3 separate regions of the Homo sapiens genome follow, and all the other regions are reported to be linked to region 2. Evidence: microRNA targets listed by miRTarBase, many of them from high-throughput screens and not tested one by one. Region 2 holds a microRNA gene; each other region holds the end of a gene's coding sequence.
Evidence for each region. Region 2 holds the annotated microRNA hsa-miR-548ac (CAAAAACCGGCAAUUACUUUUG, at 2,339-2,360, opposite strand). A microRNA usually pairs through its seed, bases 2 to 8, with sites in the 3' UTR of a target mRNA and lowers its output. Matches are read on the target gene's strand: a 7mer-m8 pairs with bases 2 to 8, a 7mer-A1 pairs with bases 2 to 7 and ends in A, and an 8mer does both.

Region 1 (5,071 bases), not on the chromosome of region 2:
TTCGACCCCAAGGGAGTTGGGAGCCCTGGAGGGCTCTGGGCAGAGGAGCGGCCTGATCCAAGGTGGGTTTCATTTAAAAGGATCACTCTGATGGGGGAGGTCAGGCCACCGGGTGGGGGCGAGGGCCAGAGGAGACAGTGGGACGTAAACCCAGGCAAGTGCTGCCGGGCCTCAGGAGTCACGCTGTGGTGGTGAGAAGTAGCTGGGCTCTGGGTGTTTCGAAGTCAGAGCTGCCCGGGTCCGATGTGGGAGGTGAGAGAAGACCCCAAGAGACCCCTGAGGCTTGTAACCTGAGCAGACAAGGAGAGCAGGGGGGCTGAGGGGAGGCCGGGCGGGTTGCAGAGTGGATATTAGGAGCCTGGCCTTGGACAGGGTGAGGGGAGATGCCTGGTGGGCACCGAGGGGACGCGTCTGCATATGCAGCTGGCTTCAGGTCTCCAGCACTGGCGCGGCGAGGGCTGGGAGGGCGACAGCAGTCTGGAGTCGATATTTTGACGGCGTGCCGCATCCCTACCAGCCATTGAGATGATGAGGAAGATGGGGCCCTGTGGACAGGGTGGGGCGTGGGTGCCACGTGCTGGGGACACAGCAACAACGAGGACAGAGTCCTGAGTGTTCCCCTGCCAGGGGCGGATAAACACCAAGTCAATGAACACCAAAGCCGCACGCTGTGCTCCCGAGGAGAGGGGCAGATGTGACGGGAGGGACTGGGGCTGCCACACCATGGGCCAGGAAGGTCTCACCAAGGGTCACCTGGAGCTGAGGCCGAACGCGGACCTTGTGAAGGGCCCGGGAAGCAGGCTCCCGGCTGAGTGGGCAGTGTGTGCAAAGGCCCTGGGGCAGAAGCCTGCTGGAGTGGCCGGAGGGCAGAATGGAGCCAGTGTGGCCTCAGTGGAGACAGCAGTGGGGTGCCATGGGAGATGAGGCCAGAGGTGTCCCAGGGGCCAGCCCACCAAGGCCATGGTGAGGAGCTGGGTTTTATCTTAAGGGTACTGGGCAGCCACAGGTTTAGGGGTGAGGAGTGACACGACCCCACAGACACTGTGTTACGTGCACTCCCTGATGACCTCATGGGGAAGTTTGAACTATTGCCTCTTTCTGCAAGACAACACGCCCACTGTGGTACAACTGACTTGGAACTCGTGGCCTTTCTCCCAGGACTGTGAATGTGCCCAGGTCCCTGGGGGAGGGGGAGGTGGGGGTTGTGAAAGGTCATTTGCCAAGAAGCCATCATTTCCCCACTGTACTCTCTCTCCAGATTGAAAAGGCCCAGCAGGCTCCAGAAGGGCAGCCACGTCTGGACCAGGGCTCAGGTGCCAGTGCGGAGGACGCTGCTGTCCAGGAGGTGGGTCTGGCACAGGGCTAGGGTCCCCCCACCCCGCCCATGGGTCTCCACTCACCTTGCGCCTTCCTCCCACAGGAGCGGGATGCCGGGGTTCTGTCCAGGGTCTGCGGCCTTCTCCGGCAGCTGCACACGGCCTACAGTGGCCTGGTCTCCAGCCTCCAGGGCCTGCCCGCCGAGCTCCAGCAGCCAGTGGGGCGGGCGCGGCACAGCCTCTGTGAGCTCTATGGCATCGTGGCCTCAGCTGGCTCTGTAGAGGAGCTGCCCGCAGAGCGGCTGGTGCAGAGCCGCGAGGGTGTGCACCAGGCTTGGCAGGGGTTAGAGCAGCTGCTGGAGGGCCTACAGCACAATCCCCCGCTCAGCTGGCTGGTAGGGCCCTTCGCCTTGCCCGCTGGCGGGCAGTAGCTGTAGGAGCCTGCAGGCCCGGCGCGGGGTCGCCCTGCTCTGTCCAGGGAGGAGCTGCCTCAGAACTTTCTCCCCGCCCCCAAACCTGGATCGGTTCCCTAAAGCCCTAGACCTTTGGGGCTGCAGCTGGCTGAGCGCCGAGGGGCTGCGGAGGCAGTGACCTTCTTAACTGAGCCACCCCACGCCCTGCTCCGGGCCTGCCTGCATCTCCCACCTCCTCCCCAGCGCTGCCTGCCCCTCTCGGAGCCTGGGGTCACTCAGACCACCAGCCAAGAGCCTTCCCTTGAAGTCCCCAAGCAAGCACTGCAATTAGGAAAGAGAAAAAGCAGCGTGCCCAGCCTGGAAGGGCATCTGTTTGCCCCGCTAGCAACCCTTTTATATCTAGCAGGGCTCTTCCAGTCCTGCAGCACGGGCCCCCAGCTATCAGCGGTGCAGGCAGTGCTGTGGCATCCCAGGCTCCGGGCAGCTCCGTTCTCATGCTGAAAGTGGGTCTCCGGCCTTAGCACACACACCTTGAGGGTCTTAAGAACCACATTCCCTCATAGTAGAAAGTACTAGAAAAAGCGACACTGCCATCATCATCCCAAGGCAGGCTGCTACTGCCTTTGCTGACCCCCGGGGTGGCCTCACGGTGGGGACAAAGCTGCCAGGAGCCACAGCAGCCACAGCTGGGGCTTTGCACCAGCCTGGCTTGAGACTGAGCAGTTTGCAGGGGGTGGGGGGTGCAAAAAACAAGCAAACAGGCTGCTGCTGCCTCCAGCTGCCCACCACAGGCCTGCCCCAGGCACCTGGGGCTCTGAGGCCCCTGGGGAGGCTGGGCCCAGCAGCTGCCCCTGGAGAACACAGACAAAGGACTTCCCCGCAGGGAACTGTGCCCTATGGAGGGATCAGACAGGGCTGGGAACAGCCACAGAGGCTGCGTGCCTATGGCACAGCCCTTCCTCCGCCGCACACTCCCCCTGGGTCCTCAGGCCCACCCAAGCGCCGGGCTGCAGAGGAAGCGGGGCTGGGGAGGCTGCAGGCATCAGAGACACTGGTGGTGGCGGACCCGGCCGCCGGGCCCCGTGCTCTCAGGCTAGCCCAGGTCGTGGAGGCTGGCAGGCTCAGGTCGGGTGTGAGACGTGCCGTGGCTGCGCTCAGTCCAGCGGGGAGGAGCCGTTCAGCCCGGCCTCCCCAGGAAGCCATATCCCCACTCACCCGGTAAGAGAACCTTGTCGTCCCCTTTCCATGCTCTCCTAGGACACGAGCCCAGGAACCCCAGACCCAGGGGGAGGAAGGGTGGAGGGGCCCCAGGGGTCACCGTGTGCACCAGGGGCCGTGAGGGGCCGGGGCATTCAGCTCAGCTCTGAACCGGGGAAGCTGGCACGGCAAGGACTGCCTCAGGTGACGGGCCGTGAGAGGGGACGGGTCAGGAGCCTTCCCAAGCCTTCTCCTCAGCCCGACACCCATGGCCATCGGAGGCTAGGATGCCAGACACAGCCATTTGCAGAAATCAGGCACAGTGACTGCAGCTCACGTCCAGCCAACCAAGCATGGGGCCGCAGCTCAGGAAGTCCCTTCCCGCCACACCACAGCCTAATTCTTACTGGGACGGAGGCAACTCGGCTACGCTGGGCAGGACGACAAACACGAGACGCCACTGTGGAATGAGCAACTTCGGAGCACGGGGTGACTTGCTTGGGACCGTGCCCACGTGACAGCCCCTTATGCAGAGGAGGAAAGAGAAGCCCCGAGTGGGAGGGGAACCTGTCCAAAGTCACACGGTGTGTGGGTGACACAGCTGGGGTGAGTCGAGGCTGGCCCCTGAGGCCCATGCTCCCTGAACGCTGGAGACCACTGTCGGCTAGCAGCGGCTCTCAGGGAAGGCCTGGTCTCCACCCTCCCAGCCTAGCCTCGCGGACCCTCGTCCTCCCCACATCGGACCTGCTCACCTGCCTGGACCCTGGGCTGCCAGATGCAGGAAGCATCAAACCCCCCAGCCTCGTGGGTGCGGGGCAGGGCGCAGGCAGCACAGCTTAGATGCCCTGGTTTGTCCCTCTTGTCTCCTGGGAAGAGCTTGCTCCCGCCCAGCTCTCCTGCCACTGGCCTTTCAGGGTTGGGCTGGGCCCAGAGTGCCTTTTAGTCGCTTCTCACGGTGGCCTGATGGCTCAACCCAGTCCCAAACGGGCCCAGTGACACTGCCGCCTGCGCCCCAGCTCAGGCCCCCACTGCACCAGCAATGCTAGAAAACCAAGCCAATAAAAGTGATTTCTTTTTTCATTAAAAAACCATTTATAGTCATTTCATGTTGGTTGGAAATCACAGAAATTAGGCAGGAAAAAAAAACCCAAGGGAACAAATACAAACAGCACAGCGTTCCCCACAGTTCTCTGCTCTGCTCTCCTGCGAGCCGGGGAAGGAGAGGGGCAGCCTGAGCTCGGGCGGGGGCTGGGCCTGGCTGCCCGCGGCTCAGCTCTCCTCGTCCAGGGCCTCCGAGTCCCCCCGTGCCCTCTCGCGCTCCTGCCGGTCGCTCCCAGGCCTGTCCAGGTCGGGACCCTCCCGTACGCTGCTGGTGGGAACAGCAAAGGCGGTGTGAGGATGCCCTCCCGCCCCTGCCCTGCCTGTAGGGCGGTTGGGTGGGATGGGCACCGAGGAGTGTACCCCCGTTGTGGCACCTGAGGCTCGAGTGCCGCCCTCCTATCTGCCTGTCTTCTGCCACTAGAGACCACAACCATCTCCAGGGTCCCCACGCTGGCGCCAGCCAGGCATAGCACAAGGCAGCTGCTGGGTAAGTGAGTGACTCCACTGAGCCTTGTACCAGACAGCAGCCCACAGTGATGGGCACAGGCACCGTCAGATAGCCGGGTGCCCGTGCTCGGGGCCTACCTACCTGGGCCACCCTGGAGGCTCGGCAAGAAGCCACCTTCCCAGGAGGCCAGGGGCAGGCAGCTCAAAGCCCTGGAGCTGCCTCTCTGTAGGGGCCGCCGGAAGTGCCAGCCAGCGGGGCCCTGGGGTCAGCTGTGAAGGTGGGAGGCCCGAGTAAGGACGACATCCCTGGGACCCATCCCAGAGGGACTGGCACAGGAGGAGCGGCTCGGACCCAGGGTGCGCGTCACACCGCTGCCGCTCAGGAGTCCAAACCCCACGGCCCGGGACACTCACTCGTGCAGGTCTTCAGAGGAGCCACACCTTGGCCCCTCCTCCGAGTCCCGACCCTCCTCGTGCTCCTTGTCCTCTGCGCTCTCCCCCTTCTGTGATGTGGCCTCGCCATTCACTGGGGCTGAGAGATCTGGGTGGGACAGAGGGGTCACAGGACACTGCTGGGCTCCAGCTGGGCACCCCAGA
Region 2 (5,075 bases):
GTCTCATTCTGTCACCCAGGTTGGTGTGCAGTGGTGCAATCGTGGCTCACTGTAGCTTCAACCTCCTGGGCTCAAGTGATCCTTCTGCCTCAGCCTCCCAAGTAGCTAGAACTACAGTTGCATGCCACCACGCCCAGCTAATTTTTATATTTTTTGTAGAAACAAGGTCTCACTATGTTGCTCAGGCTGATCTCAAACTCGTGGGCTCAAGTGATCCTCCTCCCTGGGCCTTCTGAAGTGCTGAGATTACAAGCATGAGCCACCATGCCCAGCCAATGCCATACCTTAGAGACAAGCTAATCACTCTTCCGGGATTTGAAGGAAAGGGTTTTCTTGAGTTTGTTCTTAGAAATAAACAATGTAATTTTAAGATACTTCTCTCTCTCTCTCTAAAATATTTTAAGGCTCACACTGCCTGCAGATTTTAGCAGGTAAAGTAAAAGTTCATTTGACCAAAAAAAAAAAAAAAAGAAAGAAAAAAGAAAAATTCCCTTAAAAGTTTCAGTACCTGAATATATGAATATTGGTATTTCCCTCTGAATATAAGACATCATAATGGTGATTCATTTAAAGCCTCGTGCAAGCCCAGAGATAGCAGGGTCTTGGGGCATTTTTGCTCCCAAGTGAGCAGATGGATTTCTCATCTGGATATGGGTCACTGAGCACAGCCTTGTCCCTCTCACTTCTCTGCGTTTGGTCTTCACATCACGGCACATTTTCAGTTGATGCCTACTTGCAGTATCAGGATGTGTGGCAATCTGGGAAGCAACATCTCTATCTACACACCCATATATGCATTTATAGTATTGAGGAGCGGCCAATCTCCTAAAATGTCTAGGCTAGTAATTGTATCAAATAACCTGTCCTATTAAGGCCATAAATATTCTCATATTAGTCAGTCCCAATTTTGGGGGTAGAAAATGTGCTTACCAGGCATGGAGATAATAAAGAGGAGTAGCACTGTTTGTTTTAACTCAATCAAGTTTCATACAGTTGTGACTCTTGCCTAGCTCTTAGCAAGTCCAATCCAAGGAGCCCTAGGCCAGCTCAGCCTCAGTAATAATATTTAACAGTAGCAGCAGCACGAAGATTCACTGCAGGCTTACTATGTGACAAGCACTTGTTCCAAGAGCTGTTTGTGTATTAACTCATTTAATCCTCAACTCAACTCTGAGGTAGTTCTTATTATTCATTTATTTGTTCATCAAATGTTCATGGAGTCCTGCCTATGTGCCAGACACTGAAATAAGCAGGCAGGATATAGCAATGAACAAAACAGACAAAATCCCAGCCCTCTTGGAGTCTATTTTTCAGTGGAGGGAAGAACATAATAAATGAAAAAGTAAATATCTTTTATTTGGATGATGTTGGATGATGTTAAGTGCTATAGAGAAAAATAAAGCAGAGTGTGGGGGCTGAGGAGTACTGGTAAGGAAAGGAGTTGGATGGCATGGGGGGCAGTCATAAGTTGGCATCTGAGCAGAGTCCAGAAAAGCAGGGGAGCGAGCCTAAGAACATCTGGGGTGAGAGTGAGAAAGGAGTTATTTCTTGAGAACACGCCTATCAAAGTAAGGTGGTTTGCTCCGCTGGACACTTGGTTGATAGAGAAGGTCAAAGATTCCGAAGCACCAGGCTACAGATGAAGAAATGGACTGAGAGGGTCAGCTGACTGCATTCACTCAGCTAGCAAGGGGCAGAGCTGGTGTCCAGACACAGGCAGTCGGCCCCAGAGCCTGCACTGTTGGCCAGAACATCAGATGCCTTGGTTGGGGCCATTCCTCTTTTTTCCTGATCGATTCCACCCTTAGCCGGTCCCAGTTAGTGACTTCTCTTATTTCCTTAAGACAGAGATTTACTGATTTCAGCCACACCACCACCAGTTTCCCTGCCCTCATCTACTTCATACTGAAACTGCAGCCACCTGTCTCCCAACGGTTACAAACCCTCGGTCCCCAAGGCCAGAGCAAGGTTCCCGGACCTTGCTCTCAGCTGTCAATCTGCCTCCTCGATAAGTTCATCAAGAATTAAGATGTTGGTTCTCTAAATCAACTTCTTTCTGTACTTTCCTTCTAATATGATGCTAAAATAGTTTCCTTTTTAATTCTTGTTCTTGCACTTAACCTATTTCTTCTTTCTCAAGATGTTTCCCTTTAGACCTATGCAATCCATCAAAGTAGCTACCAGCTACAAGTGGCTAGTGAGAACCTGAAATATGGTTAGTTCAAATGGAGATGTGTTCTGAGTATCAAATACACACCAGAATCTGAAGACCTGGTATTAAAAAGTGGAACATAAAATCTCTTGTTAATATTTTTTTGTAGTAACTACTAGGTTAGTGCAAAAGTAATTGCCGGTTTTTGCCATTAAAAAAAAATAGCAAAAACCACAATAACTTTTGCACCAACCTAATACATGTCGAAATGAAAATATTATGGATATATTAGGTTAACTAAAATATATTATTAAAATTAATTTCACATGTTCCATATTATACTTCTATTTGAGAGCACTTCTTTAGCCTGTTGTTTCAAGACACTCACATCCCACCTTTCTCAAAGGCCACATTTGTCTTTGACTGTTCTCACCTTAGATAGGATACAGCTGAGATCCACAGTATGCTTTAGGGAATAAGGTTCTTACTAGATCGGTTAAGGCTGTGAGTGTTTTTAAATCTATTCTCCAAAGTCTGATTCAAGGTATTTCAATACAGTACTGATCATTTCACTAAAATTCCTTGAGAATCCTTGTTATTTTCTAGATACTCAGTTCATCGTTGGGAAACTCTATTGCAAGTAGTTTACAATGGCACAGCCTCATTAGTTTCTTATTAATCTGATTTTTTATTTTTTTCTGAATGTGTATGTTAAACTTCAATTTTCTTCTAATTTTTAACTGGCATAGGAAGAAAATGTTCAAGAAACTACAGACTGGTCAGCCCAGTGGAAATTCAGGCACTAATCTCAACAGACATTTTGGGGAACATTGTAAAGTAAGCAAAGTTCACTAGAACCTATAAAGTAACCAAAAAGCATTTTCCTTGGAGGCTGATGGGCAGGCACTGAAAGTTATCTCCAAAGAGGAACTGCTAAAATGTTTTCCCCTCCTTTTCTAGGGACAGTCTCTGTATCTTATAGTCACACTTTATATTCAAACCTGAACTTATCTGAGAAAAGAGAAACGGCTGCATCCTGGTTTCACTTACAACCCTGAGATGGAAGTTGAGATTTGTCATTGCAGAATTTAAGGGTCTGTGTCCTTAAGTAAAACCTTCTGGTCACCCCTCAAGTAAAGCTTCAAAAAAGCTTAGGCACTTGTGCAGAAACAGCATGAGAAGAAACCAAAAGGCAGAAAACTTACACATATAAGGGCTGATTTATGCAAAGTTTCTACTTTTAAACAGAGAAACCAATACCTACCCTCAAAGCCTGTATTTACTAAAGAAATGTTAGAGTGACAAGGAGGTCAATAAAATAAATTATTCAAATCTGGTTCTTAAAAAGAGGTTCTAAGACTATTTTAAAACTTCTGAAAGATGCCCATCAAAATTAAAACAAAAAAACATAGCAACGAATACAATGAGTGAAACTTGATTAGATCCGGGTTTTTTAACAAAAGACACTCTTGTGACAAGTGGGGAAATCTGAATACGGGTAAAAGTTAGGTGATGTTACAGGATTAGTGTTAATATTTATAGATGTTATGATGTTATTGAGATTATGCAAAAGTGTCTAGGAGTGAAATGTGGGTACCTAGAGAATGTAAATATAATAATGTTAATAATAAATATGTCAATAAATTGCCATTGTAAATTCTATGTCCCAAAGAAGCACCCCTCACCATTACAAATTATGATATTAAATACAATTTTGCATGACTGGTAATTGTGCTGACCTATATTTCCCATGTTTTAGCAGAATTTCATTGGACAATGTATACATGTTGGATATAAGAAATCAGTAGTACTCATCTTCAAAAAGTTGCTTAGTGGATCTCAGGCTAGGGATACAACAGAGCATATAAAGGAATAGGTTCTGATTCAGAGAGAATCAAAGTTCAAGTTCACTCTGCCACTTATTTGCTGTGTGAACTTGGACACATTACTGAACCTACCTAAGCTTTGTTCTCCTATTAAATGTTCCCTATGTAATAAAATCAGTGTGACAATTAAATAAAAACATCTCAAATCTGAAGCATAGCTCCTGGCACAGAGCAGGTACTTACCTCCTAGTGGCTATTATTACTTACACTCTGTTATAACACTGGGCCTAGTTTTCCTATAGGAACACACAACACTATTTTAACTTGGATTATCTTTGCTAAATAAAAAAACACAGACTGTCTAAGTCTCAACTCCAGCAAAGCACATGAACAAGTCTCACATAATAATGTGAGATAATTTCAAATGGAGAAATGCTGGACAAATACATTGTCATCTAATGTTCAGATTCAACAATCTTTACTATTAAAAAAAAACAGATCAATATAAGGAAAATTTTAAAAAATAATACATGACTTCTGCATACAAGGAACTTAAAATCTAGTTATGCAGATAGTTGGCAATAAAGGATCTGTAAAATGTCAACAACAGCAGAATAAGACAGACTCTGTTAATAATAAAATAGTTCCTACCTTTTTATTTTTTATTTTTTTGCTCTGTTACCCAGGCTGGAATGCAGTTGTGTCATCATGGCTCACTGCAGCCTCAAATTCCCAGACTCAAGCAATTGCCAGGCTCATCTCAGCCTCCTGAGTAGCTGGGACTACAGGCGTGCACCACCACACCTGGCTAACTTTTTGTAGAGATGGGGTGTATTAGTCCATTCTCGCACTGCTAATAATGACATACATGAGACTGGGTAATTTATCAAGGAAAGAGGCTCAATGGACTCACAGTTCCACATGGCCAGGGAAACCTCACAATCATGGCAGAAGGCAAAGGAGAAGCAAAGTCATGTCTTAATGGTGGCAGGCAAGAGAGAGCGTGTGCAGGGGAACTCCCCTTTATGAAACCATCAGATCTTGTGAGACTTATTCACTATCACAAGAACAGTATAGAGGAAACTGCCCTCATGATT
Region 3 (5,071 bases), not on the chromosome of region 2:
ATCAGAGACCTCCCTTTTTTTCTAAGAGTCTTCATTCCTTCCAATCCAACATGTTTAAAGGTGGGTATCAAACTCATAAAAGTAAGAATTTACTTATTACTGCAGTCAGTCCCATTCCTTCTGTCTCCAACCAGTTTTGATCCTTAAATGTTCACCGTTCTGTTCTTAATTCTATGGTCTTTCAAATTCTGATATATTGTCTTTCACTCTGGTCTTCAATGTAGTCAAAGTAAAATTTTAAGGGGAAAATAAGATGCGTGATCTTCTCACACACATTTTCATGAAGTTGATTCCAGTGTGAGAATTGGCAAGTGCAGGAAGGCAAAAGTCTCTTAAATCAGATGTTTCCAAAAAGTAACCATGGACATCCACTCCTACTCTACTCTCTTCCAAATAAGTTATTGTTTTCTGCTATGGAAATATAAATTATATTGTGATGAAATTACTCAGTTTTCTCTGTGCAAGGAGGCAGAAAGGATAGCTTAAGAATTATATTTGATTAGATCTCTAGTCATAAAGTAATTATAACAGTAATTCAGTCACTCTGTAATTTTACTAAAGGCAAGGAAAGCAGACTTTTGACTTGAGAAATATGTTTTATCTGTATTTTAATCAAAAATGACTTGTATACAACAATCTGCATTTAAAGAAAAACTTGATATGTTCACATTCATACCTAACAACATTAGAAATTATTATTTCTGAATTTTCATAACCCATGTAATTGTATATGAATGACATTAAAGGTTGCAAACTAAATACAATAGTGATGTAGCCTGCTCAACAAAGTTCTCATTCAGAATAAGAGACGTCTAGGTTGAATATATTCATTCAAGAAAAAAATCATTTTTATTGTCCTTGAAGGATTCTGATGTTAGAAACAATATTTTATATGATAGCAAACAGTTAGTAATAAATGAATTTAGTCCTTTTCAAAGCATCATTATTGAGCACTTCAGAAAATCTGAGTGTTGGGAGGAAAGAGCTTATTAACCTCAGTCCTTTTTTAGTGAGAAGATAACCATGCAGACATTATTTTATTGTACCATGTACTGTAACCATGCAGACATTATTTATTCACAGAATAAATAGAGGATAAAGGCAAATCTAAGATTTAAAAAATAATTTTCTGCCATGCCCTTTCCCTTCCTTCCCTTCTTCCTTCCCTCCCTCCTTCCCTCCCTCCTCCCTCCTTTCCTTCCTTCCTTCCTCCTCTCCTTCCTTTCATTTTTTTATGCCATCCTATAGCCAAAGAAATGTTTTATACCTTTTTGTTGCAAAGGAAACTAAAATAAACTTCATGATCCCATTAGAGTTAAAACAGTTGTGTTTTCTTTCTCATTCTCGGCAGCTGATTTATTTTCAGGGCTGATGTGTTTAGAGTGGGTTTGAATATATGGGAGGGTAATGAATGGTACTAAAAAAAGTCCATGTTTACACTTCTCCTTTTTATTATGTTTCTACACTAATGTGCATTTTGGTAATTAGACAATTATTCTATAGCCAACTGTATTTGTTAAATCCTAGTTTGGAGACTTAAGTAGTCTCTGAATGATTTTTGTGCTAACCTGTAGTTCCTCGCTGTTGTTCCAAAACTGTATCTTTGAACCAGAAAGGTATACAGTTTATTTAAAGGTATCATACTCACCATCTAACTCTGTTATGATTAGTTGTATGACATCTGTCAAATTCCCTAATATTTATAAGCTCAGTTTTCTCATTGGTAAAATGGAAATGTCAGTGTTTTTGGGGAGATTAAATGACATTGTGCATCAAGGCATTTATCATGGTGCGTATACAAAGAAAGGCCAAGTAAATGTTAGTTCTGCTTCTAAACCTAGTCTCCCCAATATATGCAAAATATCAGACGAAGTTTTATGATTACTTAAACTCATAAAAATAACTCCGGGATTCAAGAATATGGCTCTTTTAAAAATTACACCAGCATAAAATGTGACTATGTGTGTGATATTTTTAAATACATACATTCAGTCTGATGTAATCTATTAAATAATCTTGGAAAGTAGACACATATCCAACACTTGTATCATTGCTCAAAACTTTCTTAGACCTTATTAATGAAAAACTCTCCAGAAGCAAATTCTGAGCCATATAAAAAATCAGCATTATTGTTTTTATTTGACTGAAAATCAAGCCTATCTTTGAGGGGGCGAAGAAAGTCCAAATGAGATACTCTCTCTCATTTGAAAGAGCTTTGCAATTCATAAGAAACTATGTAGATATGAAATGTCACAGAATGGGAAGTGTTAATGGATAAGTATATCCTTACTGAGAATATTAACAATTTTGCCTTAGGCTTTTAAAGAAATTCTGAAAACCCCAGTGTTTTAAGCTCTAGTAACACCATTATTGCTTATATAGTCCCCAAAGTGCCCACCTGCAGATAACACCCATCTGAGCATGTAAAACTTAGTTTAAAAAAAAATAATCATTTCTTGTATTGACTTTACCACTCTGCTTTTGTCCATTTCTTGCCATATCTGAAATTATCTTCTGTCAATTAATTTTATCCATATATCTTAGACTGCTAAAGCATGCTCTTCAGTTTGTTTGTCTTTAGAATTAAATTCCTCTTAAGTTGGGTCTGAAATTTTGCCGTAGCAAGCCAATCATGACTTGGGCTGGAGGGCAGCAAATGAGTGCCTTAGTATCACTTTTTTCCAAGACTGATTTAAATGAAGAGCTGAGGTTGAAGTAAAAAATTTTCAAAATAGGGTTAAGTTTGTAATTTGTGGAGTGTGTCAAGGTGAGTGCAAATGAGTTATTAACTGAATGGATCAGGGAATGTTAGGTGTGGAATGGAAGCCTAGGAAAATGGCATCCACAACTGATGGGTAGAATAACACTTACGGTTCTGAGGCATGTTTGAATGGAGGGTAAAACCTGATTGGGCAGCTTAAAAATGTTGTGATTTAAACTAACCATCCTTAGATCATTTTGTTAATTGAGAACTTAAGCGAGAACAAGGTTTGATCATATATTGTTTCCTGACTAGCAGAAACGGATTTTACCTTATTAATGTTTGCATTTGGCTGTGTCTTGTTTACGTCTTTGTCAGAAGTCATTTCAAATTTTTTTTTGTTTTTTTTTATTTGAGGTCAGCAATTCCCTTTTCTATTCTGTGACTTTGTATTAATTATATTTTCTCTCTGTAGACTGGATGTGATACTTATTAATAAAAACTAACTTCTCTTTTCCTCAAGTATAGCCATATACATATCCTATTAGTGTCTATTGAGGCAACTTATCCCAACTGAGAAATTAGGGACTGTTGGTTTGCAGCTCCATTAATGAGCAAATAGGAAAGAGCTAAAGTGTTGCATATCATCTTTTCTGTACATGTCTGCAGATATTCATAGGAACCTTAGAAATGCAAAGGTAGCCAATTGTACAACATCAGGCTTTAAAAAGTAGTACATAATATTTTGAAAATGGGTGAAAATAGCATTTTTGCCAGAAGAAAATGACAAATATTCTTCAAATTTTTCCACCAAATAGTTAACAGCTTTATTGGAGATATTCCTAGAGCAAGCATGTGCTTCCCAACATAGCTAAATCTATGAGGCAAAGAGAGAGATGGGAGCAGAGGCACAATACCAAAGATGCATTTTGAATATAATGGAATACAAATCAGGTGTTAATAAAATACTCAGCTTTAAGGTTCATCAGTGGCTAAGTTACAGTGGGTCAAAATTATCAAGGTTCTTCAGTGAAATTATATGAAATGCTTCTCAAGAATCTACCCCATAACTTATAGACATTCAGACATTTCCTTCTACAGCTTGCAAAAATGGAAGAGTCTCTTGAATATGCATGCATACTACTTGCCATTGTATGTTTTGATTTATTTCATGATATTCTAATTTCAATACTTTAAGAAATACTGCATACTGTTTTCATTGTCTGGCAAATACACTTTCAAATGAAAACATTTTTAATTTAGAAAGGAAGGGGCTTGGAATTGATAATAAAATTACAGATACACTAAATTCTTCTTATTCAAAGTCACTTCTGTGCCCTTCACATCTTCAGATTTAATATATTAGAAGTTAAGAAGGTTTTCAGTTAGATTGAAAAAAGACATATTTTTAAAGTGTGTCATTTAAACGTTGAGTTTTAGGGACTTTATGAATATTTCAGCTTGGCTTCTGAGAAGTTAGTGTAACATATCTTTTCATAAATATAATTGTTACATTGAAAAAGGATCTCTTATTCCAGGCATATGCAGAGAGAGAAGAAATCGAGACTTCAGTAAGGTATGTCAGGACAGAAGAGTTCAGTTACCAAATCCCGGGAAGTAACATCACCACACTTATCAGAGTGAATGTCATAGATTCAGTCGCCACTGCACATCCTGCTCCTGTTGTGTCTAAAGTACTGCCAGTGTCTGTTTGATGGATTTGCTTTACATCACTGAAGTTCATATCATCTGGCATCCCTGTAGAGGCAAATAAGAAAGCACAGGTGATGCATGACCACTTCACCATAATACGTCTAGAACAACTCTTAAACTCAAAGTGTGGACAGCATTGTTTTTGGGGACCATTCTCTATGTTCACCTAACTCTAACATAATTAATATGACACAGGTATTTCTGTCCTACTTAGATTGGAGAGTTCAAGCTCTTGTGTGAAAATTCTCAAATATTATAAGAGCAAAGTGAAAAGATTTTTAGCTTTTTAAAATTTTTGGAACATTTCTCTGCCACTGGTAAGTAAGTGAAGACATTTAATTAATTAATATATCCTAGGTATGGGATTAGTTCTTGTTTCAGAGATTTATCACCTTCAGTAACTGAAAACTTTTCCCATGAAAATAAAACCAGTTGAGGGGATATAATTGAATAAAATATTTTTTAAAAGTAGAATTTCTACAGATCATATTTTACATTAGAATAAAGTAGGCCTAAGATCTTTTTCAAATTTATTTTCATTTTTACTTGACAAATTTTATAGATATTGATGGGGTACAATGTGATATTTTGACAAGTATACCAGGAGGAATGATAAAGTCAAGCTGGCTAGCATATCCATCACCTCACATCCTTAGC

Region 1: the mRNA of HDGFL2 is a reported target of hsa-miR-548ac. Seed matches in the 3' UTR shown: 7mer-m8 at 4,068-4,074 and 7mer-m8 at 4,010-4,016.
Region 3: the mRNA of GPC5 is a reported target of hsa-miR-548ac. The part of its 3' UTR that is shown has no 7-base or 8-base seed match.

Annotation. Positions count from the first base shown.
Region 1 is chr19:4,501,135-4,506,205 of GRCh38, reverse strand. It overlaps HDGFL2 (HDGF like 2), which reads right to left. Exons shown (of 16, transcript NM_001001520.3): 15 at 4,889-5,015; 16 at 3,999-4,295. The coding sequence ends at 4,196. PLIN4 (perilipin 4) reads left to right here. Exons shown (of 8, transcript NM_001367868.2): 7 at 1,259-1,345; 8 at 1,421-4,014. The coding sequence ends at 1,747. Among named protein-coding and RNA genes, the nearest start is that of PLIN4, 15 kb to the left of the region's middle.
Region 2 is chr1:116,557,700-116,562,774 of GRCh38, forward strand. It overlaps MIR548AC (microRNA 548ac), which reads right to left and starts at 2,412; the gene lies at 2,325-2,412. All of the region lies in intron 1 of CD58 (CD58 molecule), which reads right to left. LOC105378925 (a long non-coding RNA gene) reads left to right here. Exons shown (of 3, transcript XR_947739.2): 3 at 1-3,488. RefSeq lists enhancers at 879-928, 1,980-2,219, 4,819-4,968.
Region 3 is chr13:92,865,670-92,870,740 of GRCh38, reverse strand. GPC5 (glypican 5) reads right to left here. Exons shown (of 8, transcript NM_004466.6): 8 at 3,504-4,459. The coding sequence ends at 4,302. Among named protein-coding and RNA genes, the nearest start is that of GPC5-AS1, 150 kb to the right of the region's middle.